Linked DNA regions of Homo sapiens: regions 1 and 2 are each linked to region 3. The links come from fine-mapping of genetic effects on plasma protein levels. Region 3 holds a variant in brackets. A gene starts in each other region. All regions are shown on their forward strands.

Region 1 (10,322 bases), not on the chromosome of region 3:
TCCCTATTGTGTGTATCATTAATTTGTTCCTTTTTAATGTGAAGTAGTATTCATTGTATGGAAGTGCCACAATTTGTTTAACCATTCAGCTACTTATGAATTGTTTCCAGCTTGTAGCTGTTATAAATAAAGCTTCTATAAACATTTATGTACAAATCTTTGTAGACATTTTTATTTTTCCTGGGTCCATACTTGGAAATATAAGGTCATATGGTAAGTCTCTGTTATGTAAGAAGTTTCTAAATTGGTTCTTTTCCATGCAAACCTGACACACACACAAACAAACCCTGACATAATTATTATAGACCTTTGGGCTAATGGACTAAATGACATCAAAATGAGGCCACATGGTCTGGAAACATGAGGGGGAAAGGATGTCACAGAAGTAGTAGAGGAGGTGGTATCAGATGGGGGACTTGAGAAAACAGAAGTGTTTTCAACAAAACCTGCAATTATTGTTTGTCTGAAGTAAATTACCTTCTTCATAGCAGAACATTTGGCTATATGAGAAAGTACTATTTATCCTAGAGAAATGATCATCATATAGGTAAATGGATTTTATTTGACATCTGAAAGAACAGTGCTAGGAAAATACTCACCGATGAACACTTTGAGAAAGATCGAGGAACGCTTTAGTCTTCATTATGCACCAACAAATAAAAGGTAACACGTAGAGTGGACGGAGCATAATTTTAAATCTCCCCAGAACTGGGTTCAAATTTTGCTTGGCTTTGCCATCTGTATTGTTTTATCCAATCATTTCCCCCTCTGAACCTGTCCCAACATGTGCAATTGTAAGTAATAATAGTTTACTCATGGCACTGCTGGATGGTTAACCAAGGTTAAGTCTCAAAGTGAGAGTATCAATGGAAGGTGATCCCTTCAATGTAAATTTCTTCTTTCTTCCCTCCTTACCCTTGTGCAATTCTAGTAAGCTTAAATTGTAAATCTGCTTAACTTGCAAGCTGTTAAATCAAGGGAAACAAACTGCAGATGGGACTACATTGGAGGTAAAGAATCCAATGTTTATACAATTCTGAATCTTGGTAAATGACCTAATCTTTGCTAAAGGAAAAATACTACTGAGTGGGGAAAGAATAAGGAAAACAACTAAATGATCTCCACATTGCTAATACATGAGAATTTCATATTGCTTTTACAGAATTTTAAAACTGTATGTCATGACATGGCTGTATTTATAGATTTCATGAAAAGTGGCCAAGTCTTGTTATAGGAAACATTCATTCATGTCATCACCCATGATCATTCATTATTGTTAATATTTATAGAGTACTGTGTGCCAAGCAATGGGCCAAATGCTTTACATACATTATTTCCTTTATTCCTCACAAAACCTCTATGAGGTAATATCATTACACCTGTTTTATAAGTGGGAAATTTGTGTTTCAGAGCGGTTGGGTGCTGGACCACACTCTCACATGCACACACACTCTCACATGCTCACATTCATACACGCACATACACTCTCACATGCTCATACACATTCATATACATGCACACACATGCTCACACAGGCTTTCATACACACACTCACATGCTCACACACATTCATACATGCACACACATGCACACTCATTCATACATGCACACACATGCTCAGACTTTCATACACACACACATGCACACACACATTCATACATGCACGCACACTCTCACATGCTCACACACATTCATACATGCACACACTCATGCTCACACATATACATGCACACACTCACATGCTCACATTCATACATGCACACACACTCTCACATGCTCACATTCATACATGCACATACTCTCATGCTCACACACATTCATATATGCACACTCACATGCTCACACACATTCATATATGCACACTCACATGCTCACACACGTTCATACATGCACACACACGCTTACACACTCATACATGCATACACTCTCACATGCAAACATATTCTCACATTCTTGCACACACATACTAAAATGAACAAACTAGCCACAAGATTAAAAATTATGGCTCAGGAGTCATGCAGCTAAAGGCTACAAGATTCCTAACCTTCCCAATTGCTCCTATAAATAATGTTACTATTGCAAAACCTAAATTTGTGTTTGAAGTTCACACATGAACACAGTCTCACATGTGTGCACACACACATTTTCTTGTTCCTGCCCCTACCTCCAAAGTGGAGGTAGCAAAAATTCACTGTTGTCTCAGAAAGTTAGATCTTGGCAAATAAATATTTGCTCACATAAGTCAAGCATTGCATTTCCCCCTGGCTGCTGAGCCTGTTCTCACACACACAGGGAAGTCAGCTGCAGGGCAGGATGCCATTTCATAGGTGAACATGTCACATGGAATTAGACCACTTTTTCCCAGGTCCTGCTGAACCTGCACCTAGTGAAAAAAAAACTACTATGTCTGCTGCAATACACTGATACCTTGATTAGTGAATTCCTGAAGAACTCATGTATAAGAAATGGGAGAGTCCACTCATTTGTTTTCATTTATTAAAAAATACCCTTATTCTGTGAAGCAGAATTACCTGTATTTGCAGCTGCATGACAAAAATGCCTCAATATAAAGCTCCCCCCAACCCCCACCCCCCGCCCATTGGCTATTTTAAGATAAGTTGGCAATAAATTTAGGCTGAGTTAGAATGTAAATATGAAATAGACTGGTTCCTCAGATGTGAGGCATAGATAGGCACATTACATACTTTGGTAGCATAGAGGAAGGTACCAGGTATGATGCAATGGCAAGGGAGATTTTCTGGAGGAATGTTGCCTGGCCAGTCTAACAGAGGTGTTAAGATCCTAAGCACTAGTTCTACTGCCAGCAAGCCATGTGGTTTGGGGCTAGTTTCTTAACTTCCCTAAACACCAGCTGGTTCACTTGCAATGAGGGTGATAATATTTGCTCACAGTTTTGTATTCCTTGGCTTTCAAGAAATTGCACAATCCTCTTTCCTTTCCACTACCTTCTCCTTTCCCTTTCTCTGTCATTTGTACTTTCTAACGTGGGGCTCCTCAAGTCTCACACCTTGGGCTTCTCTATTTCCACATGCTATGCTCCCTTGGTTCAAACCTTGCCTGCAGTCACATCTCTACCCACTCCACCTCAATCTTGCCTCCGTTTCAATCGCATGCTGGACATTTCCACGTAGACACTCTGCCAAGGCATTTGAAATTCAACAAGTGTAAAGCTGAATATGGATAGTTCTTTTAAATAGGGCTGCTAATCTCACAAACTCCAAACTTCCGAGTCCTCTTCAACATCTTTTTCCCCACTGTTCCTTATCTAATCAGTTGCCAAATTCTGTGGCTTATTACTTTGAAACTTGTTTGGTCAGAGCAGGAATGGAAATTCAAAAGTCTATAATAATTGTGTCAGGAGTTTTACAGAGCAACAGGACTGGAACTCCTTAATATAGATTTATTAATTTTAAAACTAAAAGACATTTTTGTTCTCTAAACACCTGGACTGTTGTAATTAGCTAAATTGGATCTTTGCTTACACAGCCATTCCCATTCCAGCATCTTAGATGCAAATTCCAAATTACCCAGGTGCTTCCTCCTTACAAGTGTCAACCGTCCTTTAATGCTTCTGAATGGTGTAAAAGGCACAGGCCTTGCCTTTAAGGCTCTCTCAAATCTCTTTCCAGCCTCTCTTACCCTCTTGTTCCATTGCCATTGCCTCAATTCAGTTCTCCATACTCTCCCTAAACTAAACTCCTTACTATTCCTGGAATCAACAGGACTGACCCCAAACCTTTGTTCGTATCTCATCTCTTTTCCTATTTTTGCCCTATTGCATTGACACTTGTCATATTTAGTTGAATCACTGGGCCTTTAGCCTTCCCCGCTCCAATTACCACACTCCCTTCTTTCCTTTCTGAAGCCCCATACCACTTTGGTTGTGATATTTGTATAGCATTTATCATGGAAAACCTCCCTACTAGATTGTAGATTCTCAAACACAAGTATTGACACTTAGTGGGTTTCTGTATACTAGGGAAGTTTATTAAACAGTCTTTGATTTAGTCATTGTATGGTTCCTGGGATAAGAGTAAGAACCGTGGTCCCTTGCTCTGTCAAAATCATAAACCTATTTTCTTTGTATTTTGACTTAATTACATAAGCTTGTTTTGGATTGGAAGGTCTATAGAGACTATTTTAGTGCCAAATGCTATTTAATCAATGCAGAAATAAGCCCTTGAGAGGTGCAGTGACTCAGCTGAGGACACACTGATAGTTTCTGGTAGATAAGTATGAAGCCTTGGAACTACTTCTCATATCATAAGCCCCTGGGTTCCCAAATCACCTCCCCAAGTACCTAATTCATCATCCTCTGCATACAAGAAATTTTTGCTCATTCCAATAAAAAGAATGTAGTACGGCAGGACAGGAGAAGTACAGGTTTTGGAATCAAACTAGGTTTAGATTCTGACCTGGTCGCTAGTTAGTGCATGGGCTTTGGTAAACAGCCTCTCAGCCTGTTTCCTTGTCTGCAAAATATGGATAGTTATCTTCACTTCATGAAGTTGTGTTGGTGAAATGGTATAATGTGTATAAAGCAACTGGAACACAACAAATGAGGCCATTTATTTAAAATAATCTTTAGTAAGTTATAAATTCACATATTTGCTTTTTTCTGAGGAATGCTTAGATTTTATCATAGATCTCTTTTCTAAATTGAGTAAATACATAGTGGATTTCTTTGTTTCCTTCCCCTCAGAATGTTGAAATTTGGCTGATTGTAACTATTACTTAAGACTCTATCCAGTAATTGTTCGTAAAATTTCTTTTCTTTTTTTTTTTTTGAGACGGAGTTTTGCTCTCGTCCCCCAGGCTGGAGTGCAATGGCGCGATCTTGGCTCACTGCAACCTCCGCCTCCCAGGTTCAAGTGATTCTCCCGCCTCAGCCTCCCAAGTAGCTGGGATTACAGGCACCTGCCACAACGCCCAGCCAATTTTTGTATTTTTAGTAGAGACGGGGTTTCACCATGTTGGCCAGGCTAGTCTGGAACTCCTGACCTCAGGTGATCCTCCTGCCTTGGCCTCCCAAAGTGCTGAGATTACAGGCGTGAGCCACCACGCCCGGCCAAAATTTCCTTTTAAAAAAAGTTATTGCCAATAACTAAGTATGCTGGAAGGTGAATGCTTAGGACATTTAGTGTCACTGAGCTGTGTGATAGAGATAATATTTTTGACACTTTGCAGAGCTCATTGTTTTCTCTCCATATAAAGCTATGACATTCACATAATAAACATGTAGAGAGCTTTAACAGACTTCAATGTTAAGTCTTCTAACAGCTGCATAACTGGTCTTGCTTGAACCTGTCTTTTTCATAATGCTACCTTGCCTTTCACACCAATTCTGTGAGCCCAAGCAGGAATGAAGATTACCTATCTCTAATGGCAGGACAGAAGGGAGTGGTGGTTAAGGTTACTGGAGGTTATTGGGGGAATAAATGAAGACCTCATGCCACTTCTAAACACTGCCAGGACCTAACATACCTTGTGTTTTTATATCCAATATGGGAGTAAAGGTTAGATATTTTAACATCAAATATGAGGATGACACTAGATGGTTTTAAAAGCCCCCCACCATAACTTCTAAACTCCACAATGTTCGAATATTGTTAGGTTTCAGTGAAATCCTACAGTAGTCCCTTGCTTGGAATCACTGTAGGATTGGCTCCAGCAATGGGCAACACAAGGTTTGGTTCTATACAGTAGGTATGGGTCAAAGAAAATGCTATGATTGAAAAATTGCTGTTTTCCTCCTCAAAAAGCTCATACCAACCAGGAAAGAGCTATCAGAAAACCTTCAGGAAAGAATATAATGATAGGATATAACAAATACCCCCACAGCTGGTCCATAGACCAAAGTATAATTCCAAGTAGGGAATTTCACTTAACGAGGTAAGGCATTTAAGGGAAAAGGAATCTAGGCTAGGACTCTGCTAGCCAGACCCAGATAAATTATTACAGGGAAGCATGTTCTTGAGGCTATTCTCTATGAAGAAGGGCAACCCACCTTGCCATCTATATCCTTTCTGTTTTCGACAGGGGTGGTCCTAAGCTGGATAGATCTTTACTCTGACCAGTACCATATAGGTCTGTGGTTCTCAAACCTGGCTGCACAGTGTGGCACTTTAAGTAATCCTGATACCCAGTCCCATCCCCAAAGATGCTGATTTAATTTGTCTAAGGTGCAGTTTGGGCCTCTGGATTGGAACCAACCCATATACCCATCAATGATAGACTGGATAAAGAAAATGTGGCACATATACACCATAGAATACTACACAGCCATAAAAAAGGATGAGTTCATGTCCTATGCAGGGACATGGATGAAGCTGGAAACCATCAACCTCAGCAAACTAACATAAGACCAGAAAACCAAACACTGCATGTTCTTACTCATAAGTGGGAGTTGAACAATGAGAATACACAGACACAGGGAGGGGAACATCACACACGGGGGCCTGTTGGAGGGTGGGGGTTAGGGGAGGGATAGCATTAGGAGAAATACCTAATGTAGATGTTGGGTTGATGGGTGCAGCAAACCACCATGGCACGTGTATACCTATGTAACAAACCTGCATGTTCTGCACATGTATTCCAGAACTTAAAGAATATATATTTATATATGTATAAATATATATGAATATATAAATATAAATATATATATAAGCTCCCCACGTGATTCTAATGTGTGGCCAGTCTTGCAAACCTCAGGCTATTTATTCTAAAGGGTTTGTAACAAGCCTTCCTCTTAAAATCCACCCCACCACCATTCAGCGTTTTGGGGTCTGTTTGTTTTTATTGTTATCCCACCCCACACCGCCCCGAGGCGCGCGCGCGCGCGCGCACACACACACACACACACACACACACACATACACACACGCACACTGGTGAATTTCTCTCTACAGTCAGTCTGGAGTAATCCCAAAGTGGTGTCTTTCGTAAATAAGGAGAACCCGGGTGAAGAAAATGACTCCCACCCGAACAAGGCATGAACAATGTTCACTCCCTACTGTGTTATTCAACCTGTTTCCCCAGGTCTCTGTTTTCACATTAGAGAGTGTTCTAGGAGATGACGCCCTTCCTCCTTAGTTATTTCCCCACCCTCGTGCTGGCCTTTGACAGACCTCCCAGTAGAGGGCCCAAGACGCGGGTAGAGCACCGCGTCTCAGCGCCTGAGTCTCAGCCCCCGAACTCCACCGCACCTGCAGGTCCCCTTGGCAGCACTCAAGCGCGGGGATGCTCCGCTTAGACGAACTCACGTGCGGGCAGCAAGGCCTGCGATACTTGAGCACCCCTCCCCCTCTCCCGTTTACACCCCGTTTGTGTTTACGTAGCGAGGAGATATTTAGGTTTCTAGAAGGCAGGTCATCGCAGGCCCCACCCAGCAGTGGAGAGAGTGAGTCCCAGAGGGTGTTGCCAGCGAGCTCCTCCTCCTTCCCCTCCCCACTCTCCCCGAGTCTAGGGCCCCCGGGGCGTATGACGCCGGAGCCCTCTGACCGCACCTCTGACCACAACAAACCCCTACTCCACCCGTCTTGTTTGTCCCACCCTTGGTGACGCAGAGCCCCAGCCCAGACCCCGCCCAAAGCACTCATTTAACTGGTATTGCGGAGCCACGAGGCTTCTGCTTACTGCAACTCGCTCCGGCCGCTGGGCGTAGCTGCGACTCGGCGGAGTCCCGGCGGCGCGTCCTTGTTCTAACCCGGCGCGCCATGACCGTCGCGCGGCCGAGCGTGCCCGCGGCGCTGCCCCTCCTCGGGGAGCTGCCCCGGCTGCTGCTGCTGGTGCTGTTGTGCCTGCCGGCCGTGTGGGGTGAGTAGGGGCCCGGCGGCCGGGGAAGCCCCTGGGCTGGGTGGGAGGTCCAAGTCGGTCTCTGAGACACGCACAGGGGCCGGCGACTTGGCAGGTGGGGAGCTTGGCCCGCGGTCGTGGTTCCCGCCGTCCTGTGCCTTTAAGGCTCTCGCCGCTCACCAGCATTTGGGGCTCCTGCTGTGTCGGCCCCCAGCTGACTTGGCTTTAGGGGTCGGCGTGGAGGGTTAAAGAGGCCCCGGCTGGGTTTGCGGAGCAGCCAAGCCTGGCAAAATCGAAAGGGAGGGCTCAAAGAGACTGTATCCTTAACCCCCAAAAAGCTGGTCTAAAAGGATGGGAGGCCAGACCGCTGACCGTTCCCCACTCTCGACAGAGTCCAGCCGTGTGGAGCACACGATGCTGCAAACTTGCATGTCATCTCTTTCAGGTGTGGCATTTCAAGGGGGCTTGTGTCTTGAAAACAGCAACTGTGAGGACACTTGATAGTCATTTCCTTCAGTTCTGCTTTTGTCTCCCTAGGTGACTGTGGCCTTCCCCCAGATGTACCTAATGCCCAGCCAGCTTTGGAAGGCCGTACAAGTTTTCCCGAGGATACTGTAATAACGTACAAATGTGAAGAAAGCTTTGTGAAAATTCCTGGCGAGAAGGACTCAGTGATCTGCCTTAAGGGCAGTCAATGGTCAGATATTGAAGAGTTCTGCAATCGTAAGTTCTTCATCTTTTTAGAAAAGTTCTGGGAATGGAATGTATCTTAAATTTATTTTTATATACCTTTGGAGTGACTAGTAATTGATAGTTCTCTAGCGTTACTAAACCCCAGGGTATACCCTGTTGGCACGTCACACTCCAGCTAATTGAAGACATTTACCACCCTGAGTAGGTCCTGCTGCTTCATTAAGAGTTTTTCTTCCTAACACTGTACCTCTTGAACGAACTAGTAGAGAAAATAAACAATAGGTATTGTTTAGGGAGTAAACATATAAAATATATTTGGCAATTGCCTTGAGACACATAGCGTAAATGATATGTTTTCTTAAGTATTTTATAAAGTAGGACTTACCAAATACAACTCTGTGGTGGCATTTTTAAAAGCTCTCAATATTTACTTCAAAATCTGTTATACTTGTACATATTTATAGGGTACATGTGATATTCTGGCACATGCATACAGTGTGTCATGATCAATCAGGGTAATTGGATAGCCAGTACCTCAAACACTTGGTGTTTGTGTGGAGAATATTCCAAATCTTCTCTTCTTGCTACTTTGAAAAAATATATGTATATATATAAATTGGGATATATATATAGGGAGAGAGATATATATAATTGGGATATATATATATAAGGAGATATATAATTGGGATATATATAAGGAGATATATATAGGGAGAGATATATATATATAGGGAGATATATATATATAGGGAGAGAGATATATATAGGGAGAGAGAGATGTATAAACTGGGATATAGACAGGTAGATAGGTTGATTGTTAAAAATGAATAAGAGGCCCAGTGAAGAGTTGTTTGGGGGCTAACACAGTAACCGTGTTTGATACTGATACCTAGTAGAATTAAAAGAAATGAAGATTTCTTGTTTTAGGTGAATATACATACAGTCATCCACACCTTATGTGCCCTTTGATTTCATAAAATATATATTGGCATTATCTTGGAGGAAAAAAATCTGTTACTTACATAGCCCTGTATTAGCTTTGAGATATATGAGTAGAGATAAAGATAAAGAGACCCGATAACCTGACTTTGAACAACTTAAATCAATAGAAGCTACTGTAAATACAGAAATTGGCACAAATACCTTTAGAAGCCATGCGTGAAATAGGCTTTAACTTTTTATTTTTATCCACAATAGAGGCAGTAGGATGAAGTACATAGTCTTTGCACATGTATCATGTTTTAACTCTTCCCCATGTTATTACTTTATCCAATCCTCCAAACAACCTTATGAGGTAAGTTGGGGCTCTTACACTCTTTTTATGGCGGAGGAGACAGACCCCAGTAGTTTAATAACTTCCTCAAGAGCAGCAGCTTTTACGCCAAAACCAAGGTGTAAACTTGGGTCTTCTGACTACAAATCCAATGATGACCCTTCCACTTGACCATGCCTCTCTAGATTCACATTTGTGGGCAATCTGTTTACAGATGTAAATACTTTATGTATACAATTTGTGGGCAATCTGTTTACAGGTGTAAATACTTTATGTATACAATTGACTCATCCTTGCCCCCAGGGCTCATGGGAATTAAATGAGTTTGTACGTAAATAAATATTAGCTGCTATTATTGTTGTGCAGGACATTAGTCCAGGGGTCTGGAAATACCCTATTCCTGTACTGTATGGTGCTGTGTAGTTCTTTAGGGCAGGGTAAGGAAACCAACATTTATTGAATGCCAGAACTGGGCCAGGCAACTTAAATTTTTTTTTTTTTTTAAGTGGGGATAGTGATATGTGTGTACCAACTCTACTTC
Region 2 (10,806 bases), not on the chromosome of region 3:
TCAGGGCCGGACTTGCAGCAGGCCGGAGGCTGGGAGAATAACACAGAAACACGGAGGGTGCTGGGGCCCAGTTCTTCAGGTAGGCTGTCACTGTTGCCCACCCTTCCCCTACAGCCATCCCCACAGCCTCCTGCACCCAGAGACAGCTGGGGTGGAGGAGAGGCTGGGGCCTGAATCCCACATTTGCCCCCACTTAGCGGCTGTGTAAACTCGGGCAGGTTGCTTCACCCTCTCTAAGCCTCAGTTTCCTCATTGTAAAACCGGCAATATTGCTTAAAAAAAATCATCATGAGAATTGAATGAGTGTATGGAAGTTCCCAGACGCTGGCTTCCAGCCGGGGGTACTTTATCTGGAGGACTCTCTTCGGCGCTGCAGGCAGATGAGCAGAGGAAATGGAGGTCTCAGACTCAGAGGGTATGGAGATGGCGGCCTCTCTACCTCCCCTGTGGGTGTTTGGGCTTTGAGAAAGCAGAGACCTCCGTACCTGTTATGATAAGACCTGGTACATTCGGAAAGCCCAGACCTCCTTTCCTGGGCCCGTCTAAAGCAACCACCTTATCCTACATGTTCCTGGTGTCAGTGCTGAAAGTCCCTCAACCCCAGAAACCCCTCACTCCCAGGCAAACTGGGGGTGGGGGGTTGTTGGTCACCCCAGCCTGGTCCCTGCCATCCCACTGGCTTTAAGACACAGCAGCCTGGAGCCAGGCCACAGCTGAGCAGGCATCAGCCCATCTAACAGAAAGAAAATCTGAGGCTCAGCCAGGCACGGTGCCTCGAGCTTGTACTCCTAGCACTTTGGGAGGCCAAGGCAGGAGGATGACTTGAAGGCAGGGGTTCAAGACCAGCCTGGGCAACATACTGAGACCCATATCTACAAAAAAATTAAAAATTAGCCAGGTATGCTGGTGATGCCTGTAGTCCCAGCTACTCGGGAGGCTGAGGCCAGAGGATGGCTTGAGCCCAGGTCAAGGCTGCAGTGAGCTATGATCGCACCACTGCACTCCAGCCTGGGTGACAGAGTAAGACCCTGTCTCTAAGAAAAAAACATATTTTTTTTAATGAAAGAAAAGAAAACCCGAGGCTCTGAGAGATCTTGTCTCAGCTGAGGCCACACAGGTAGAAGGGGGAGGAGCTGAGTTTTCTCACCGTGTATGGCAGGTAGCATAATACCTCCTTAATATTTGCTACAGTAAATGTATTATACAACAATAAAAATGACATATGTGGAAGCCCCTCCCACGGAGGGATGATTTCATCCTCTCACTATCTGGTGACCTCATTCCTCCTCACCCCTGTGTTCACTGGCTCTAACGGTGCCATCACACTGATTAGCAAGCAAGGCCCGGAGCGGCGGGATCACTCCCAGGCCCCACCTTCCACCTCTCCTCTTCCTGGAAGGCCAAAAAACAGTCCCACAGAAGTGGGGCCAGGGCAGGGCTCCGACAGAGGCGTCTCCAGTGACCACGTCCTATTTGTCTCAACACTTGCCTAACAGAGTAGGTCAGAGACTGCTCGTTTGCCTCTTTCGCCCTAAAACCAGGCTGCTTCTGGCCCAGGCCCCATCTAGACCCCATATGGGCCCCATCTAGGCTGTGTGGAGGAGCAGGCTGCAGGGGGCCCAGACTCCAGCTCCAGAGAACCCGCCGTGTGGCCGCCCTGAGCTGCTCAGGAAAGATCCTCGTGGGGCTCCACGCCGCTAGGAACCTTGCACTGAGAATCCTGAAACTGGTGGTCAGAGCGGGCAGGATCTTGGAATGCTAAAATTCAAAAGACTGAGCATCTCAGGGTTTGGGTCAAGTAGTCACCAAGAGAAGGAAAGACCCCAGATAACTGAGGCACAGGCAGCAGATCTAAGTCTGGGTAGACAGGACAGGCCCTGCCCTGCCCTGCTGTGCCCTGGGAGTCACATCAAACCAGGTCAATCCCCAGCTCTGTCCCTTAGAAGCTGTGTGACCTGGGGCAACTCACCTCACCTCTCTGAGCTGTGGGTTCCTTAGCTGGAATACAAGGACAATGGTAGCACCCGCTTTTTATGGGGTTGTTGTGGGTTGAAGAGGGCCAGGGAAATGCTGAGTCCTCCCAGAAGCCTTTCCAGATTGCCCCAGGCACGATTAGTCACCTCCCGTGTTTAAATCATTTCTGCTGTTCATTTATTTTCTAAAAATGTATTCACATTGACTCCTAAACTTCCAGAAGGCAGGAACCACAGCTGTCTTGCTGATCAGGCCACAGGCCCAGGATTCAGCCGATGGGCAGGCACACACCCCTCGCAACACTCGCCCCAGTGGCTGGCAACCACTGTGGCTGTCTGCTCTGCTGCCCCCACCAGACCACAAGTTTTTGGAGGGCAGGAGCTCTCCTGGGTCTCCTGGCATCCCCAGGGGCCTCACTAAATGCCTCTGCAGAAGAGGACATGTGACTGAGGCAGGGGAACGTGCACAGAACTGCACAGCACGTGCTGTCTTCACACTTTTCACACCACATTTGCCAGCTGACACTTTGCAACCTCTTTCCGTCATCTACCTCAACTCACATCAGGGAGTCTCTGTAGACATTTTTTCCCACTTATCATCGCCCTTATGAAAGGTTTATTTATTTATTTAATTTTAGAGATAGGGTCTTTCTCTGTTGCCCAGGCTCGACTACAGTGGTGCAATCATAGCTCACTGCAGGCTTGAACTCCTGGGCTCAAGCGATCCTCCCAAGTAGCTAGGACTACAGGTGCATGCCACCAGACCCGGCTACTTTTAAATTTTTTGTAGAGATGGGTTTTCCCCATGTTGCCCAGGTTGGTCTCAAACTCCTGGGCTCAAGCAATCCATCTGCTTCAGCCTCCCAAAGTGCTGGGATTTATAGGCATGAGCCACGGTGACCAGCCCTCCTCATGAAAAGTTAATAGCACAGATATGCTGTATATCTGTTTAATGTTTGGTGGCTTGCAAACCACAGTGTTAGTTGAGATTTTTTTGTTACACCCCCCTCCCTACCCTCCACCCCACCAAGAACCAAGTTACACCTGTTGGAACCCAAACTTGCTGGCCTGATCCAGAGGCAGTAAGGTACTTGGCACAAATGAATTCAATGAGACCTACATCTGGTTAGTTGAACAACTGTCTTTAAACAGTTTTCTAAACACCCCTGTGTAGACAGACAGATTAACAAACACAGACCCCCAACACACACACACCAGCCATCTTATCTCCTTCTAGACCACTGGCCCCCACTGCCATCTTCCTGTTCAAGTTCAGCAAAGGAAGCCGAGACACAGGCCTAGGGTCACCACGAACTCCATGGGCATCCTGCAGCCAGAAGCCATGCCGCCAGAGGCAGCTGCTTCTCCCCTTCAAGCCTCAGTTTTCTCATCTGTAAAAGGGGCACTGTCCACCCTCCAAGGTTCTCGGATGATTGATTCCCCAGCTCCTCTGAATGCCCCACTCTGGGCCCAGCCTAGCAACCCAGCCCTTCCGCTCTCTGAGGTTTAACTCCCCTGGCTGCTGGCCAAGCCTGCTGAGGGAGGCATCAACCACCCAGGGCACGGCCTCGGAAGAGACTCTGGGGCTGTCTGAGGGCCTGGGAGCCACCTTCTGAGGCCCCGGCCCACTGAGGGGCCTGGCTCTGGGGGCCTCAAAGTCAGAGATGGAAAAAAAAGGAAAACAGAAGAAAGAGGAAAGAGGAAGAGAATTCCAGGCAACAGAAGCCCAGATATCGACAATATGGGGTGTGTGTGTGTGTGTGTGTGTGTGTGTGTGTGTGTGTGAATGTGTGTACAGCAGGGCACAACTGGCCCCCACCATTTCCTTTTAGTGTCCTGAAAGTATCTCAAATACAAACTAATAAGAGTATTCTAATTTTTTTTTTTTTGAGACAGGGTCTCACTCTGCCACCCGGGTTGGAGTGCAGTGGCACAATCTCGGCTTACTGCGACCTCCCCCTCCCAGGTTCAAGTGATCCTCCCACCTCAGCCTCCCAAGTAGCTGAGACCACAGGCATACACCACTACACCTAGCTAAGTTTTTGTATTTTTGGTAGAGACGAGGTTTCACCATGTTGCCCAGGTTGGTCTAGAACTCCTGAGCTCAGGCCAACCACCTGCCTCGGCCTCCCAAAGGGCTGGGATTACAGGTGTAAGCCACTGCACCCAGCCAAATATTCTAATTATTATTATTATTATTGTTTTCCCTTTTGCTAACAATAGTATCTTAATTCTAATATTTTAATAGTTTGCCACAGACAAGTGTCATTTCCTCAGTCTTATAAAAAGTGGGAAGAATGCATCTTTCTCTGAAAAGAACTTTTTTATGCGTCCATAACATGCAGCTTCAAGAGAAATCCTGCACTCCCCCTACTTTCTGGAGTCTTCCAGACCTAATCTCAGCTCTGCCCCTAAACAAATCCCTTCACCTCTCCCGACCTCAGTTTCCCATCCAGGAAAGGAGAGGATAAGATCATTTCTAGGGAAACACTCATGGTTTCTCTGATTTTCAAAATCAGAATGCCGCCAAGCCAGACGCTGCAGGCAAACTGGCCAGGGAGGGAAGTAAGTTAATGGGAGGCTGGGGCTGGTGGGTCACACCTGTAATTTCAGCACTTTGGGAGGCCAACGCAAGAGGCTTGAGGCCAGGAGTTTGAGACCAGCCTCGGCATCAAAGTGAGACCCCATCTCTAGGAAAGGTAAAAATATTAGCTGCATGCGGCGATGTGCGCCTGTAGTCCCAGCTACTCAGGAGGCTGAGGTGGGAGGATCACTTGTGCCCAGGAGTTTAAGGCTGCAGTGAGCCATGATTGTGCCACTGCACTCCAGCCTGGGTGACAGAGTAAGACCCTGTCTCAAAAAAAGAAGGAAAAAAAAAGTTGGCAGGAGCAGGATTCAGAAGAGTCACAGAATAAGGCCACAGACTCCAGGAAGACTTTAGTCTTGAGTCGGAGGAGCCTCAGTTTGCCCTCCCCAGGTGCTGCAGCTCAAGAAGGGCCTGGCGGTCCTACCCGGGCCTGCCAGCAGCTATAAGGCAGGCCCTTGGCCCATGGGGACCTCCAGCCACTCCCTGTGGTTTTGCAAGCCAGCACTTACCACCGTGCTCAGCAGAGCATGGGACAGCTGCCTCGTGGGCCCAGAAGAAGTGGCTTCTCTGCTTTAGTGACAAGGTCCCAGCCCACGCTGCCAGGCACTGCTGTGGCACCCCCTGCGGCAGTCCCGGATCCGAGCAACCCCCAATGGCTGTGTGTGGAAGGAGGAAGCGAGAATGTGGTTACTTAGGCAGGGCCATGTGACAGCCCACACCCCATTGTTTGTGACAGCTTTGGTGACAACATTGATAAAGACAGGGTGGTAGTGGGGCACCTCCTAGGTCTGACACTGTTCTTGGGTTCCCATAACTGTGAAAACACTGAGAACCAAGTAGAAGCTTTCTGGGGAGAAGTTCTTCGGTTTTGGGTGGGGCCCAAACTGAGAAAGGCCACAGCATTACTTCAGCAGCAATGGACAGTCGGGGCCAGAGGGAGCCCCCTGAAGGACAGGAGTGACCAGAGAAAAAGGAGAATGGTCTCGCTTCTTGCCCAAGATTGGTGGGGCGTGGGGAGGGGTGGGAGGTGGTCAGGGAGCAAAAAACACAAAATATGAACCTTCAAAGGGTTTGCAAATATGGTGTATTTCTTCTCGCAGGACTCAAAACACTCTCTGTAGATGCACAGCACAGGCCCTTTCAGCTGCAACCAAGAGCCTCTCTAGGGAGCTGGACTACAGATACCACAAGGGCAAGTCCTGCTTATCTTATTTCTTCATCCTAAATTTGTTCATTTGACCAACTCTGGCACTCCAGACTGCATGCCCTGAGGTCTAAAGGCCAGCAATTCTGGGCTGTGGCCCTCTGGTAGCCCTCCATCCAATGGGGAGGCCAGCGAGTAAACAATTCGGTGGAACATCATGCCACAATGACACAGCGCAGTGAGTGCCATCCTGCGGTGAGCAAGGGAGGGGCCTCTCCTTCCATCCTGGGTGGGGGAGGGAGGTTAACAGGAGGAGCTTCCAAGAAGTGGCACTTGAGATGACAAGCCAGGTGGGCATCCCAGGCAGAGAGCACAGCAGAGGCAAAGGCTGGGAGGCCTAAGAATACCCAGACACTTCCAGAAGGGAGGGAATAGGGGGGTCTCCCAGGATCTGCCCTGCGGCTTTGCACCAGGCAAGGGCTCAGGACATGCACAGAAAGATACTCATATCTTGCCTTGCACAAAGTTGTTTTTTTTTTTTTTTTTTGAGATGGAGTTTCACTCTTTTTGCCCAGGCTGGAGTGCAATGGCACAATCTCGGCTCACCGCAACCTCCGCCTCCCGGGTTCAAGCTATTCTTCTGCCTCAGCCTCCCGAGTATCTGGGATTACAGGCATGTGCCACCACCCCGGCTAATTTTGTATTTATAGTAGAGATGGGGTTTCTCCACGTTTGTCAGGCTGGTTGGTCTTGAACTCTCGACCTCAGGTGATCCACCTGCCTCGGCCTCCCAAAGTGCTGGGATTACAGGCGTGAGCCACCGTGCCCAGCCGCACACAGGTTGTTTTAAAATGAAAACCAGAGACCCAGCAGGTGTTCGCCATGACACAGTCTCAGCCACCTTAAGAAGCTGCAGCTGGAAACAGCCAAAAGCTCACCCTGCCGGCACGGACAGGGAAACTGAAGCCACAAGAGGGGAAGTGAGACCCCTAGAACCCAGGCCCCTCACCCTTCCCCAGCAGGTTTGGAAATAGCCATCCTTCAGGGACAGGGGACTGAGAAACTCTAAACACACCCAAGACTGCCTGCAGGTCACTCTCTGATTAGCGGAGGTGAGTGGTTGCAAGCTGTCTGTCACATCCAGCCTGCCACGTGGTTTTGTGCAGCTTGTGAGCTAAGAATGGTGGTTACATTTTTAAGTGGTTGGAAAATGTTTTGTGATGCATAAAAACTGTGCGAAATTCGAGATTCCGTTTTCATAAAGTTTTCTTGGGACACAGCCACACTAATTGGTGTAAACATATTGTCTCTGGCTGCTTTCACGTTGCAGCGGCAGAGTTGAATAGTTTCATCACCTGCAAAGCCTCACAACACAAACGCTTAACGTTTCCTGAGCCTGTGGTCAATGCCAGACCCTGTGGTAGGTGCTTTGCATACATCAGCTCATATAATCCTCGAAGCTGCCTTTAGAAATGAGGAAACTGAAGCTGAGAGGGAGAATGTGCCTTGCTCAAGGGCACACAGAGTAATGGCAGAGCCAGGACTCAAGTCCAGGCACATGAAATAATGTTCTTGATCTTAACCCCTAGCCTGGGATGGTGCAGGCTGAACGGTGAGCTCCAGCACATCAGCAATTACTATATGTAAGGAAAAAGGAGTAGCTTAGCAGCAGGTAAGCTATTTCTTCTGTGTGTGTGTAATAGGGTCTTGCTCTGTGGCCTAATCTGGAGTGCAGTGGCGTGGTCATAGCTCACTGCAGCCTCAAACTCCTGGTCTCAAGCAAGCAATCCTCCTGCCTCAGCCTCCCCAGTAGCTGTTACAGGAGCACACCACCACGCCCAGCTCCAAGTAATCTATTTCAAGGTGAGACTTGAGCAGTGAAATTTCCTTCTCAGAGGAGCAAATATTGCTAAGATAAATCTGGTGTATGTCGTCTGTGTGAAGACCATAAAACCACACTTCACCGCACCTGACATCTGTGAGAGTCAAAGACTCAAAGTGAATATGTTTCTGCTTCTAGGAATGAAGCCCAAGAAAAATACTCCAAGTTGCCTTCCAAGATTGAAGCAATGATATCTGAGGTGAGAGAAATATTGGGAAAAAACACAGACTCCCCTACTACAGAAACCTGTCCCTTGATGGAATGTGACGCAGGCATGAAAGTTATATTTATACTGAATGCTTATAAAGCACTCAAGACCTGTTAGGTAGAAAAGAGAGGGCACAGAAGTATATAAACAGCATAATTCAAGTGTGCTTGCATGCTGAGAGGACAGACTGAAAGAAATGCTGACGGTGCCTATCTCTGGGTGGCATAATTATTAATGCCCCTTTCCTTTTAAATATATTTTCTTTTCTATATTTGTATATAGAAAAAATGTATATAATGATGTCTATTTTACTTTTTTTTCTTTTTTTTTTTTTTTTTTTTTTTTTTTTTGAGACAGAGTCTCACTCTGTCGCCCAGGCTGGAGTGCAGTGGCACGATCTCAGCTCACTGAAACCTCTGCCTCCTGGGTTCAAGTGATTCTCCTGCCTCGGCCTTCCTAGTAGCTGAGATTACAGGTGCTCACTACCATGGCCTGCTAGTTTTTGTATTTTTAGTAGAGACGGGGTTTTGCCATGTTGGCCAGGCTAGTCTCAAGCTCCTGGCCTCAAGTGATCCACCGGCCTCCACCTCCCAAGGTGCTGGGATTACAGGCATGAGCCATCATGCCTGGTCTACTACTTTGTTTAATTGTTACAACTGCCTCATGAGGTAGGTACTATTAGTATCCCCATTTTGTAGATTAAAAAAAATGTTCCAGAGAGGTTAAGAAACTCGCCTAAGGTCACAGAGCTAGTAAGTGGCAAAGCCAGAGTCTGAACCTAGGGTGTCCTATGAAAGAGCCTGCATTCAATCACAATAAATATTGGTTCAATATATAAGTGATTCCAGCTCCTCCTTGCAGACCTTGCCTGCTGTGATTGGTCTAAGAGGACCCAGTTCTCCCCACCTCCTCGCAACACCGTGTGAGCCTGCTTGGGGTGTGGAGCAGGAATTGCAATCAGCAAAGCCAGTGGGTGTTAGGTTCCTCTCTACACTGGAGCCCAGTAGTGGGCTAGCCTAGGAAGCAAGAGCTGTTTATGGGTCTTCTGAGAAAAATGTGCTCCTGGTTGTAACTAACTGCCTGCTACTGTTGGAACAGCCCCATGTTAAAGCAAAAACATGGCTCATTGGGCCCCTACTTGGAGCTCTCTTACAAGTGGATCCTGAGCAACTAGAGATTTGGTATTCAAACAAACAACCTATAACCTCTTTATACTTAAATGATCATCCGTGCACTAAATTCAGTCTTCCTTCCATTCGCTGATGGATGAAAATGCCTGCAGCCTCATGGTGGTCCCCAGTCCCCAGAGGCAACACCACAGCCTGTACAGCTGCATGTGTGCAGTGGTCTATTTAATTGCGTTTTGCTTCTTTGTTGTTTCGGGGTGGGGAACTGTTCCCACCAGTGACAAGCACAGCTGTAATAAAGCCTCATATTATAGAGACAAAGAGAGGAAGGCTTGGAGGCTTGGGTGCCAAAAGCCAGCGCAACTTAGCTTCAGCCTGGTATTTACCAAGCTTAGGTTGGTCAACAGTACAGTTATTAAAGAAAATGAAAAATTAAACATTTGTGGAATCCTGAACATATGTGGCTAGGCAAGGACTATAACTGACAGGCCAGGTATAGCCTGAGATTTTATAATCTATGTGTAACTTGTCAGGAACTGTTATCCCTCCCCGACCAGGTGCTGGCTTCCTATGCAAACCTGTGTCCGCTTCCCTAAAAATGGGGAAAACAGGGGTGACGTCGCTTATAGAATCCCACCTCCCTTGCCAGTGGTCACTGTCCCTCCAAGGAAACTGAGGCTCCCTGGTGGCGCAGGAGGGCACAGGCGGACCGGAGCCCAGCCAGACTGCAAAGCCCATTAAAAGCCTGTTCCTTCCTCCGAGGAAAGCAAGAGTCTTGCTGGTTGTGCCGCTTGTTTCTCAGGGCAGTGGTCTTTTCAGTTTACTCACAATGGGACCTTTTGTTCGAATGAAAGCAACGGTCTCATGAAATAGAATAAGAACAGAGCTGCTCGCAAGCAAGGCCCAGAAGGGAGGAGGGGAAGTCACGCCCAGCTGCCTGCCCTCCCCCGTTCCCCTGCTGCTAGGGGGGCTCACGGGCTACAGCTTGCTGATTTGAATCATCCAAAGGGGAAATGGTCCACTGTGGGCCTGCTCCAGCCAGGATTCAATTCCCTTTCTCAAATGGGAACAGAGCTCTGGGGAGTTCACTTTCGGCCCCAGATTTTCGCTGCCAATCTGGGCGGCACTAGGAACCAGTTTCTGGGCTGGAGACTGCAGCATGAAGCCATTCCTCCAGAGTGGAAGAAAACAGGGGCTCCCCAGCTCACTGGGTCTGCTTGGGCTGGGGGTAGCCAGCGCTGCTGGTCCCAGACCTGGAAGGCCAGAGGGCAAACAAATGTTAGAAATGTACTCCAGACTCCGTGATTCTTCCCCAGAGGGTAGTGGCTGAAGGAATCCATGCCTCTGGCAGACATCCTCAATCACCTGGCCTCAAAGACCCCTGGGAAGGGGTCTTTAGGGGAGAGACCTTGGTGTTGTTTGAGGAGGCCAGGGGCCTGGCAATAGGAGTCCTGGGATATTTTGTGGAATTTAAGATCAGAAATAAAGCTGGACCTTAGGCATGGACTCGGGGAGCTACAGGGACCCAGAAGCCCTTTCTTCATCACTGTGTATCTGCTCTGCCTGCGTGGTCCCTGGCTTCCCCAACTCCCAGGCCCCCATAAAGGAAAACCCAGATCTGATGCCACTGATGGTGGCTCCAAGGGGCTCATAGGTCACCTGGAGTTGACTGTGCTCCGGGACAGTCTTATTCTGTGAGCAAAGTACCGCTGGGCGGATAATGCAATATGTGCTCCCATCCCAGATAATGTCTACATTTTCAACTATTCAGTCTTTCAGTAAGTACTGATTGGCACATCATGCCAGATTCTGGGGATCCTGGTGAAGGAAACCAGTGCCTGTCCTCATGCGGCTTATATTCAATTCAGGGAAGACACTCAAAACT
Region 3 (10,651 bases):
ATGGAGGCGGGGGTCCCTCCAAGCCCCTTCCCTCTCGAGGGCCCTGCTCCACACTCCTCCTTCTCTCTGCTGCATCTTCCTCTCTCTACTGGCTCCTTCTGGACAGCATTTAAGTCTGCTGCAGTCTCTGCTGCTAGACAAAGCATCCTTCCTCAAATATGTGACCTTCTCCTTTAACCCTGCACCCACCCCTCATGGCCCTTCCCTGTTTCTCTCCTGGTACACTGCTGGAGTGCCCTACTCACTCCTTATACATGGGTCTTTGTAGCTATTACTCTATTCCAGCCTAGTTTCCACCTCCATCCCAAAGAGAGCTTGCTCTTACCCAGGCCATACATGGTGCCCCTTCACCTCTCTGGGGACAGGCGTCACCAGGGCAAGGCCTCAGTCTCCTTGAAGTGACCTTGCTATAGCCTCAGAGGCACCACGAAGCCAGAGACCTGTGGCCTCCCTGGCTGCTTCTTCTAACCTCCTTTCCTGTATTTTGCTCCTTGGACCATCTCATTCAACTCCCTGCAGGCCACATGCAGACCCAGGGCTTCGTGATCTATAGCCTGATGAGGCCCAGATTTCTGTCTCCAAGTGGGTGGGGTCTTAGGGCCTCAATCCCATTACCCTCAGTATGGGCTCTGAGCTAATGGAGGGATTGATTCAGGAACCACCTGCAGCTGTGTTCTGAGTCAAGCTGAATTGGGGCATGTGGCTTAGAATTGCAGCAAAATGTCCCTGCTCGTTATCTCATCCAGTTGAACTGACTTTCTATACCCAAACACAACCTCCTCTTTGCGGCAGCCCCATCAGCCTGGAAGGTGAGCCACATGGAGCCACGTGGGGGCCCAGAAAACAGGAAGCCTCTGCTTTTCACAGCTGAGCTGAGAGGTGACTGAGCTGAGGGCCCCAGGGTCTGATCAGTCAGCTGAGTCTTTTCCACCTGCAGGAGGTGCAGTTCCAAGGGAATCAGAGGAGGGCAGAGCTGCCGTATTCGGGGGGCTTAGGGCTGGGGAGAGGGAGAAAATGGTTCCCTGCACCAAGCTCCCTCCTCGACCACCATCTGCAGCCCGCTACTCCATGTCCCCTGCTTGGCAGACATGGGTCATTAGTCTACCCCTTACAGCAACCTTTCAGGGCAGGTGTTATTATTACTTCTATATTTTGAGGGGGGAAACTGAGGCTCAAAGAGGCCAAGTCCCTTGCCTGCCTGAGGTCCCTTACCCTGTGAAATGGTGGCAGTGTTAGTGTGGGCATGTGAGTCAGCTTAGGCTACCATTAAAAAAATACCATAGATCACTGATTTAAATAGAAATGTATTTTCTCACAGTTCTGGAGGTTGGAAATCTGGGATCAGGGAGCCAGCGTGGTGGGGTTCTCGTGAGGCCCCTCCTCCTGGCTGCTGATGGCTGCCTTTCACTGCAGCCTCACATGGTAAAGAAGTCTCTGGGGTCTCTTCTAGGGCACTAACCTGATCATAAGAGCCCCCAGTCACTTCATCAAACCTTAATTACCTCCCAAAGGCCCCATCTCCAAATACCACCCCAACAGGGTCTTAGGGTTTCAACATATGCATGGGTGGGGGTGGCACAATTCAGTCTCTAGCAGTAGGACTGGAGTCAAGCACTTGCAAGATATTGGGGGGATACGGGCACGTAACAGCTGCATCTCTGAGAAGCAGGTAACCTGGAATTTGCTGAACTATGAGGACCTCAAGTTTCAGCTGAAAATGACCAGGAGAGCTTTGACTCTGACACGTGGATGAAGCTTCACCTTGTTCTCCAGGAATGGTTGGGCCCAGCACAGGCATCAGAGGGAGGGAGGGGGCAGGGCAGATAGATACATTGTTACCATCATTGCTATAGGGAATGTCATCAGGGTAATATCCCACAGGTGTTTGAAAATGACCCCCAGAATCCTTGAATGAAGCAATGGAAACAGCAGAGGCTGGCTCTTCCCCAGCAGGCGAGGAAGGCCTGGAGAATCATAGATATTTCCTCTCCAGGTCCCCTAGGGCATCAGCTTCCTGGACATGCCTCAGATAGCCTCTGTCCCCTAGTAGGGGAGGAGACTCTGAGGGCACACAGACAATTTCCTTTTGTGGCATGCAGACATTCAGTGAATCCTGTGTGAATAAACCACCTGCCAGAGGCATTGGGAGGACAAGCGGGGAGGCTCCTATGACTGGACATTGGAGGACAGGGCCACCCCCACCCCCTACCCTGCTAGGTGACACTGTGGTCAGGCAGGACGGCTGCCCCTGGAAGGTGCTCACTCACAGTCAGGGGCAAAGTGGCAGCCTCTGAGGGTCACCCCTGGTCACTGTGGGCCATCGACAAAAGAAAAGAAAGAAAAGAAAAACGAGGGGGCATGGGTGGGAAACACCAGCCATGGCTGAATGTAGAGAATGACCCAACAGGGTCGCCACACTCTCCTTTCAATCCCTGTGCACATTAAATATCCTGGGAAAGCGAAGAGGAAATCGGAAAGTTCCACTTAGGAACTTCTTTTTAGTCCCTTCGCTTTTTGTTGACGGCCAAGCATGTGTTTGGAGCAGCCTCGCGGTTATTCCTAGGACTTCCCAGCGTTCCCAGGCCAAATCCTGGGAGGATCTGCATTTTGGGGAGGGGTCGGGGGGGTGCAGAAGCAGATGGGCCTTGGCTCTGGTCCCAGCTTCCAGGCAGGTGCCGGGGTGTCTTGGAGGAATGCCTTTAGGCCCTCAGGGCTGTCCAAGGAGGGCCCTGACAATTTCTTTCCCTGGCCATGGGCTCTAGCCTGAGACCAGGGTGCGATGTGCAGGACAGGGCGGCCAGGCGCTGGAGCCCTACAGAGCTGGCCTGGAAAAGCGGGCGGCGGGGCCGACTGCAGCATAGCACCACCTCGTGGCCGCTGGTCCACATTGCAGCTGTGATGTGAGGCCAACCAGGAGCGAATTTGGGGGAGGCTGTGTCTCCTATAGAACGGATGGCTGGGTGGGAGCGCGTGTTAGCGCCAGATGACGGCAGGGCCCTGTAGGGAGAGGACAGAGAAGTGATAGGGCAAGGAGGAAAGGGAACTCTAGAGTTGAAGAAACAACTTAAAGAAGATACACAGGCAACATGAAGGCCCGTGGCAGGGGGCAGGAGCAGGACAGAGGCATGGGGGGAGGGAAACAGACCGGGCTCCCCGACAGAGCCTTGCTGTTCATTTCAGTCTTGCACACAGCTCCTTCTCCTCTCCCGTGTCTGATGTACTAATAACTAACATTTGTTGTTGTAAGCCTTTTGCGTGTGTTAACTCATTTTATCCTCTATGTGTATTTATATAGAGGTATTATATCATTCCAAACTTATCCATCAGGAGATTAGGCAGCGAGGTTAAGTAACTTGCTCGGACTCACACAGCTAATAGGTAGGACCCAGGGCGGCCTGGCTCCAGAGCCCCTGTGTGAATCTCTGCCCCATCCTTCCTCTGGGGGCTGCCCTCAGAAGGTCCCCATAGACAGTGTCTCAAATAACTCAACGTCTTTGCTAAGCACAGAGTGACAGGGAGGCGGCAGGGCAGACAGGAGGCCCGGGACTGGAGAGAGGCGCCTGGCTGTGAACCCACCTCCGCCCTCAGCCATGCAGCAGCCCGCAGGGCTGTTCTGAGTTAAAGATCACGCCCATGGAGGTATTGTGTGCCATACAAACTGGGAGGCCTGGTTACTGTGTATACCAATTTTATCTTACAGGCTCGCAACATTGGGTTTCTGAATCTGTTTTTTTTTTTTTTTAAAGGGAGATTAGTGCCAACTTTGGACCAAACTCTTGTCCATCCCTGGGTGTGCCCGTCTCTGTCGGGGGAGGACAGACACTAGCCCAGCCCAATCAGGCCCTGGCCAAGGTGAATTCACTCAGCAAACGTTCAAGCAGGTGGTGCATGTCTACTGGGCCTCTGGAGATGCTTTTGTTTTTACTCCCACATCCCCTCTGAAGGCCAGTGTTGTCGCGCCCATTTAATACATGAGACACGCAGCTGAGGTTCAGAGAACTTAGGTGACTCGCCAGTCACACGGCAGGTAATGGGACTCCTGGGCTTGAGAAGAGGCCTCTCCAAGGCCTACGCTGGGGCTCTCCTCTGTATCCTGAATTCTGGCCATTCGGTAGTGGCGACGCCAACCCAGGAGGCCCTCTGAGTTGGAGTGTTGAAGGAGGCGCAAATGCATGACCCTTGTAGAAAAGCAACAAACACACCCAAACAATAAAATAGCTCTTTGTTTATTCACTTTGATTTGGATCATTGGAAATATTAAACAATAAATAAAACAGAGCGGGGGCTGAGGAAAGCAGGATCTTGCTGAAGTCATTCGAATGCATCCCAACCAGTGCTCAGCTGCGTAACGACATGGAGAGAGGCAGGGGGGAATAGAAAGCAAATTTAAAAACACCAACACCCAAACACACAAGACTGCACACAAGAAAAAGTGCTCAAGAAACTTTGGCTTTGAAGGGAATTCAGTGAAGGGAAGCGATTGTGCAGGAGGAAGGGAAGAAACCCACGATCACCCTAAGGGGCGGGGGGCTGGAGGGCGAGGCCCTGAGACAGGCTAGGGTTAAAGCTGACGTCCCACAGCTCAGGACGTACAACCGATGGCAGTTTTGTACTAGGAAGAAGCTGAGTGATGAGGCTGGGTGATGGGATCGCTTGACGGGCTGGGAGGGAGGACAGGAGGTGTAAAGGTGGCTCACCTTCCCCTAGGAAATTCAGTGCTCTTTTGGTAAGAAAAAATAGTCGGTAATGCCCTGATCCTGACAAGCTGTGAGATGCTGTCTTGCCTGTCTCTGCCTTTTCTTCTAAGTTTTCCTCCTTTTCTTTGCACAGGTGTCAGGTAGCACCCCAGGGGTGCAGGAGCTGGTGTTTTCATGACAAACAAAAATGGGGAGGTTGACTCTATCTCAAAACTAGCTAGCCCAGTCCACAGGGCAGGATAATCCTGATGGCGTGTAGCCACATTTGCTGCAAACCAGATGTCTGCGATGGATATAATGATACCCCCGGGGCTCTTCTCAGGGGTGAGGACAGGTGCTGGTTCCTGATGGTGCATGGCTGGTGTCCAGTCATCTTTAGCTGGGCAGTGGCCCCTCGAGGCTCGGGCTTCCCTGCACAAGGTATTTTTGATCCTTGCCAGCGGAGGGAGAGAGAGTTATCTTGGTTTCCTTTCACTTGTTTTCGGGCTGCTTCAAAGCAAACATCCCAGTTCCAAATGTTCTTTGTGGTTTGAATCCTGGCAGAGGCCAGGGTCACATCCAAGTGGGACTGGCCTCTAGCACCACCTTCTGGCCACAGCAGAGAATGGGATTCCATCAAAGCCTCTCAACCAGCCGTTTCCCTAAAGAATCACCCAGATCTTAACTGCCCTCTCCACCTTCTTTTTTTTTTTCCCTCCTATTTTACATTCTATTTTCTCATATCCAGCTTTTCTCTCTAAGCCTAACCAAATGCTTTGGTGAATGATGCTTGGAAAAGCTGGAGTTTTAAAAGGCATTCATCCATTTATGAACTTTCTTCCAGCCCAGGATCCCTGCAGAGAACCAGAGGTTACAAATCTGCCCTCCTTTCTCCCCTAAAAGGTGGCTGAGGGGAGGAGAGGTGCATGTAGCTCCAGCTATAGCAAATCAGTGCCCTGACTCACTGGGGAGACCCAGGGGGTTGGGATGTTGCTGACACCTCATGGGCCACCTCATCAGCCCATCTTTGTAGCTTCAGGTTCAGCTCTGGGTGCTGCAGGCAGGGACCCCTCTGCTCCCTGCCTGAATGCAGGGCCAGTCTCCAAGGAACTCTGTCTGCAGAGTAGAAAGAGCTGTGGGCTGGGAATCAGGGGCCTGAGGGAGCCCCTGCCACTGCCTGCCCAGAACCAGTGCTCCTCATTCTCCTGCTGACAGCATGCATGTGCCTTTTGGCTAACACACACTCTTGTCTAATTCCCAGCCACCTTCACCCCAGGGATGAGTTCCAGTTGGTTTAAGCCAGACTGGTGCATTTAATTCTGGCTGCAACAACTGGATTCTGTTAAGTGCCCATTGCTAAGCCAATGAGCTATCTGCTGGGCTGTGGGAAAGAGAAATGCAGTCTCCTGCACGGGAGGGTGTGAGAAGGCCACCCAGGCAGCCTGCAGCTAGAGCTCGGCGCTGAGAGAGCACAGGAGAGTCAGACACCTCCATTCTGGTTACACTTTTTCCAGATGCTGAATGGAGACTCGCTGGGAAAGCCCGCCTCCAGACAATTTCAACATAGCGCCGGTAACACCCTAGTTTTGCTCAAACTCTGACTTGTGCTATCTGTCCCAGACAGTTCACGACTGCCCGTCACTTCCCTCCTTCACACTGCACCAGGAAAAGGCCACACCTCCCTACACAGCAGCAGCCTTTTAGGAAATGTGCTCTACAGGAAAAGTGGTTTTTCTGATTAAACATCAGGAACTAGAGTCAACAATCGCTGTCCTCTCCCGTGCCTGTCACGCTCCACTCCCCACCCAGCTGCAATGTGGCCTTGATTTTCTCATCAGTAAAATGGGAAAGCTGGATTTGGAGGCTGGAAGAGATCTCACAGCTTGACCACCCTAGTAGGAGGGAGGGAGACCAGACGGAGGCCAGGCAACCGACCCAGGCAGCATCTGGCTCAGACGCAGACACATCTTCATGTTGAGGGACCTATTCTTACACAGCAAAACCCAGAGAAGTCGACTGCTCAGCCTGAGCCTGTCATCCCTATATAGACTCAGCTTTTAGGAGAAGAGGGAGAGTTGAGGAGATAGCATCGCTCTCTGTATCAGTGTCTGATGATCTGGAGTCTGCCCCTGGGGTCACTCAGTCACTCAACAAACATTTGTTGAGCTCTTAACGTCATATATGGGTGTGAGCTCTGCCCTTCGAGGCTGTATGTTCTGAATGATGACTCAGTGATTTACCAGCCTTTCTCAGAAAAAAGAAAAGTCTTTAAAGTTTTGGAGGATTTTAAAGCTGAAACAGGTTTTCGGTTTGTTTAACACATTCCCCATTCTGAACCTTTGAGAATCTAATAAAAGCTATGGTCCTTTCTCCAGAAAAATGCTCATATGCAGAGATTCAGGGAAAAAACCAAACTTGGCACGCAACTTCCGGGGACTCTTGTGAATGGCCTGAAGCCACCTGTGACCCATGACTGATGTCCCCAAGTTCCTCCCTCCCCGTGTGCAGAGGGGGCTCCCCCGAGCCTGGGAGCACAGGCCCCATGCCTCCGTCACACTCCACCAGGAAAAAGTCACGCCTCCTCAAAGCAGCAGCGACCTTTTCAGGGATATTTTCAACAAGAAAGTGGTTTTTCTGCTTAAACATTAGTAACTGGAGCCAACAATCACCGTCCCCCACATTCCTGTCACTCTCCACTCCACACCCAGCAGCAATAAGGTTTCACGGAGTTTTGGAGACTCCTAGCCTGAGAATAAATCCAAGTCCACAATGAGGAAGAAGGAAGGTTGGGTTGGGACGGGAGGATGCTGAGGACATTCCACAAACCATCCAAGCCCTAGATACCCCCAATATCCCACGTCCGAGGACTCCTACAAACCTCCCTTAAGCACCCCCACCTAATTTCCCAGCTACTGGGTGAGGCAAGCTTCATTAAAACACCAGGACCACCAACAGAGCCAGGGTGCAAACAATGTCAGTTGAATAAAAAAAAGAAATCAATAAATAATCAGGAAGGCTAATGAGGAAAAGAGAGTAGCTGGGGAGTAAGAAGATGAGGTATGTGGCAGT[T/C]ACCATTCCTGGGATGTCCTTGACCCAGACCCCCAGTGACAGCCCCAAGATGGCCAGCAGGGACTTGACCCTGAGCTCAGGCCCTTGGGGAAAATGCTGCTGGCAGCCTCCTGTGTGGCTTTGGAGGTTACGGGCACCATATTGAACAGTCTGAGAATGAGAATGTACGTTCCATTCTGACGCACTGCTGGGTGGTGTTGAGTATCCTCAGAGCTTCGTTGCAATTCAGGTGCTGGCTCAGGAAACCAGAAAAGATGTTCCCAGCTACGGAGCAAGCAGGGCCGCTGGTGGGGGTCCCTTTTCCCAAGTAAGGGCTTTTGTTTCATTTCAGCCAATGCATGCTTTTCTTTCCCAAATACAAAGGCACATGGAAGTGGTCAGATCCGCTCTCGCCACGATTAGAACCATGAGACTGACTACTCAAAGGAACAACTGCTTGGGAAGAGGCATCTGCAGGAGTCAGAAACACGGTGCCAAGTTTGGGGTTTTTTTTCTTTTCTTTTTTTTTTTTTTTCAGAGACAGGGTCTCACTCTGTTGCCCAGGCTGGAGTGCAGTGGTGTGATCACAGCCCACTGCAGCCTCGAACTCCTAGGCACAAGAGATCCTCCCTCCTCAGCCTCCCTAGTAGCTGGGGCTACAAGTGTGTGCCACCGTGCCTGGCTAATTTTTTTAAATCTTTTATTTTTGTAGAGACAGGAGTCTCACTATGTTGCCCAGGCTGGTCTTGAACTCCTGGGCTCAAGTGATCCTCCCGCCTCGGCCTCCCAAAGTGTTCAGATTACAGGTGTGAGCCACGGCACCTGGCCTCAAGTTTCTGTGAAAATCTTTGGGGTAGGAGCCTCTGGTGGCTCATAAATGAGCTTTGGGAAGATGACAGGGTTATCACGCCAAGCAAGAGGCCAGGCTTCGTGCAAAGAAGGGCAGCATCTCGCCCCGAGCGCCAACACCGCCTGGCACGTCTCTGTGCTGGAGGTAATCGCCACTCAAGTCTCTGCCCATCTTCCTGGGAAACTGTCCTGTCTCTCAGAATATAGGCATCTTCCACATTCATTCCCCAAGCTTGCCCCAGGAGCCAAAATGATTTTAGTGTGTGGAGGTTGAACCTTTCCCAGCGTCTCCCCAGCTCTAGGGCAGCAGTGGGGGGACGTTGTCCCCACTCAAGACAGGTTCCAAGACATGCTCTGCCACGCTGGCAGAGCTTAGTGACCTTGCTGAGTAGATGCTGCCAACGGCTGGGTGCAAGAGGCTGTGAGCGGTGCCCAGGCACACACCTGAGGCTGCCCCTCCAAGCTCCGGGATGGAACGGCTCCAGCAAGATGCTGGGGCTGGAAATGCAGAGGTGTGACAGTGCGTCCATCCTCAGCCCTTCACTGCGTCATCTCCCCTTGAAGATCCGGATTTTATTGATGGAGGCCAAGGTGGCCGTCACGTTAGACTCAAAGTCTGCATCGTGCACCCCCGTCTTGCGAAAAGCCCCCGCGGATGGGTTGTTCTCCCAGTAGTGGTGCCAGTTCCCTTTGCTGTCTGCCCCGAAGCCGTACAAGTCCACCTGTGGGAGCAAAGCAAAGATGAGAACCAGACAGCAGGGCTGCTGGTGGCACCTCTGAGAAAGGAAGCCTGTAGGCGTTCCTGGAATCCCACAGGACCATAAACAGCATTTCCAAGGACTCTGACTAACCCTTCATTAAAAACCCTTCTCTACGTTCCTGGAACTCTCAGAGTCTTGGTGAAGCAAATGCAAGTTAAGTAAAACTCAAGTCTAATTCCAGAAGCACCCTGAGAGATTACTGCATCTGGGTGGTCTCAGGGGCCCGGGTCTTACCTCTGCAGCAAGTGCAACCTATTCTCCCAGGATTGAGGAGCTACAGAGGGAAGGAATAGGAAGGAGGGCGTGGAATGGAAGAGAGTGGAAGGAGAGCAGGGCTTTGGGGCCAAGCAAACTGCCCCAAATCCCAGCTCTGCCACTCCGTGGTGCCCTGGGCATGTGAAGTCACTTCTTTGAGCCTCACTTTCCTCATCTGGAAAATGGGTCCAAGAATCATGATTGCAGTGAGGCAGAGGGCAGGGCTGATCCCTTTCTTCTCTGTGGCCAACATTCATCTGGTCCAGGCGCCCTCAGGGCCACTAGACCAGGCCTTTCACATACATGACAAACCCTGTGCATTTATTCTGAGCCCAGCACCCTGCTGGCTGTACTGAAGTTCAGGCAGAGCTTGATCAGATGCCAGCTGGGCAGCTGCAGGGGGAAGCAGCCTTGGAGCTTATAGCTTCTTGGAGTCACTGACTGAGTGGTCCTTGTTGGAAATGGGGCTAAATTCAGGGCTCCCGCAGCACAGAGGAGGGAGGAGCTATGCCCTGAGAGGTCAGAGGAAGCTCTTCAGAGGAGGTGGCATGTGAGTTGGGTCTTGGAAAATGAGTACAAGATGACCAGAAGGAATTGCATGGAGGGGCTTCCAGGGAGAGGACGTGCTATCTGGGCTGCAGCGTGGAAGATAGATTGGAGGGGTGGGGACAAAGAGGGGACGGGGACAGCACCATGCCACATGTGGCTTTCTCAGGAAATGCAACATGGACATGGGCCTGCTCCAGGGCAAGAACGTTAGGGCCAAATCGGTGGGACGATGGGAGAAAGGGCTCTTGAGCAGAACCTCAAGCAAGGGTCTGGGACCAGCTGGCTGGAGGTGGGTGGGGTGGGGAAATGACAGGGGCACCCATGTTTCTACCTGGGAACACCAGGGTGGGGCTGAGCCTGGGGACCTGCCTTGCAATGCCTCTGACCCTTTCTGAGATTCCCACCAGGCACCAGGCAGGGTGGGGCTGGGGCTGGGCTGAATGAGACAAGAAGGGACACGTGAGGGCCCTGCCTGAACCCAACATCAGGGAGGAAGTGGGGGCTGTGTGGCCT

Direction of the effects. Alleles are on the strand shown, and positions count from the first base shown. The strength of an association depends on the size of the effect and on how common the allele is.
In carriers of allele C in region 3, the plasma level of the protein whose gene starts at base 7,649 in region 1 tends to be higher than with T alone (weak association).
For the plasma level of the protein whose gene starts at base 5,224 in region 2, allele C in region 3 goes with a higher level than allele T (weak association).

The links. PIP is the posterior inclusion probability: the model's chance that the variant is causal. Protein levels are from antibody-based Olink assays in UK Biobank. Linkage for the fine-mapping came from a reference panel and not from the study's own genotypes, which makes the PIPs less certain.
Region 1: CD55 starts here. The variant in region 3 is fine-mapped to the plasma level of the CD55 protein (UK Biobank, PIP above 0.99).
Region 2: SELPLG starts here. The variant in region 3 is fine-mapped to the plasma level of the SELPLG protein (UK Biobank, PIP above 0.99).

What each region holds. Positions count from the first base shown.
Region 1 is chr1:207,314,030-207,324,351 of GRCh38, forward strand. It overlaps CD55 (CD55 molecule (Cromer blood group)), which reads left to right and starts at 7,649. Exons shown (of 10, transcript NM_000574.5): 1 at 7,649-7,836; 2 at 8,353-8,538. The coding sequence starts at 7,737. LOC107985251 (a long non-coding RNA gene) reads right to left here and starts at 8,100. Exons shown (of 3, transcript XR_007066838.1): 1 at 7,657-8,100. LINC02942 (long intergenic non-protein coding RNA 2942) reads left to right here. Exons shown (of 4, transcript NR_186170.1): 4 at 1-152. RefSeq lists enhancers at 2,555-3,384, 7,075-7,284 and a silencer at 7,845-7,924.
Region 2 is chr12:108,628,671-108,639,476 of GRCh38, forward strand. SELPLG (selectin P ligand) reads right to left here and starts at 5,224. Exons shown (of 2, transcript NM_003006.4): 1 at 5,070-5,224. It overlaps MIR4496 (microRNA 4496), which reads left to right and starts at 7,140; the gene lies at 7,140-7,200. LOC105369968 (a long non-coding RNA gene) reads left to right here. Exons shown (of 3, transcript XR_007063449.1): 1 at 1-79; 2 at 5,661-7,567; 3 at 7,725-10,806. RefSeq lists enhancers at 3,138-3,287, 4,696-4,745 and a silencer at 5,986-6,035.
Region 3 is chr8:133,450,643-133,461,293 of GRCh38, forward strand. It overlaps ST3GAL1 (ST3 beta-galactoside alpha-2,3-sialyltransferase 1), which reads right to left. Exons shown (of 10, transcript NM_173344.3): 10 at 4,206-9,295. The coding sequence ends at 9,122. Among named protein-coding and RNA genes, the nearest start is that of ST3GAL1-DT, 110 kb to the right of the region's middle. RefSeq lists enhancers at 2,325-2,825, 2,826-3,326. The variant T/C (reference allele first, on the strand shown) is at 7,746.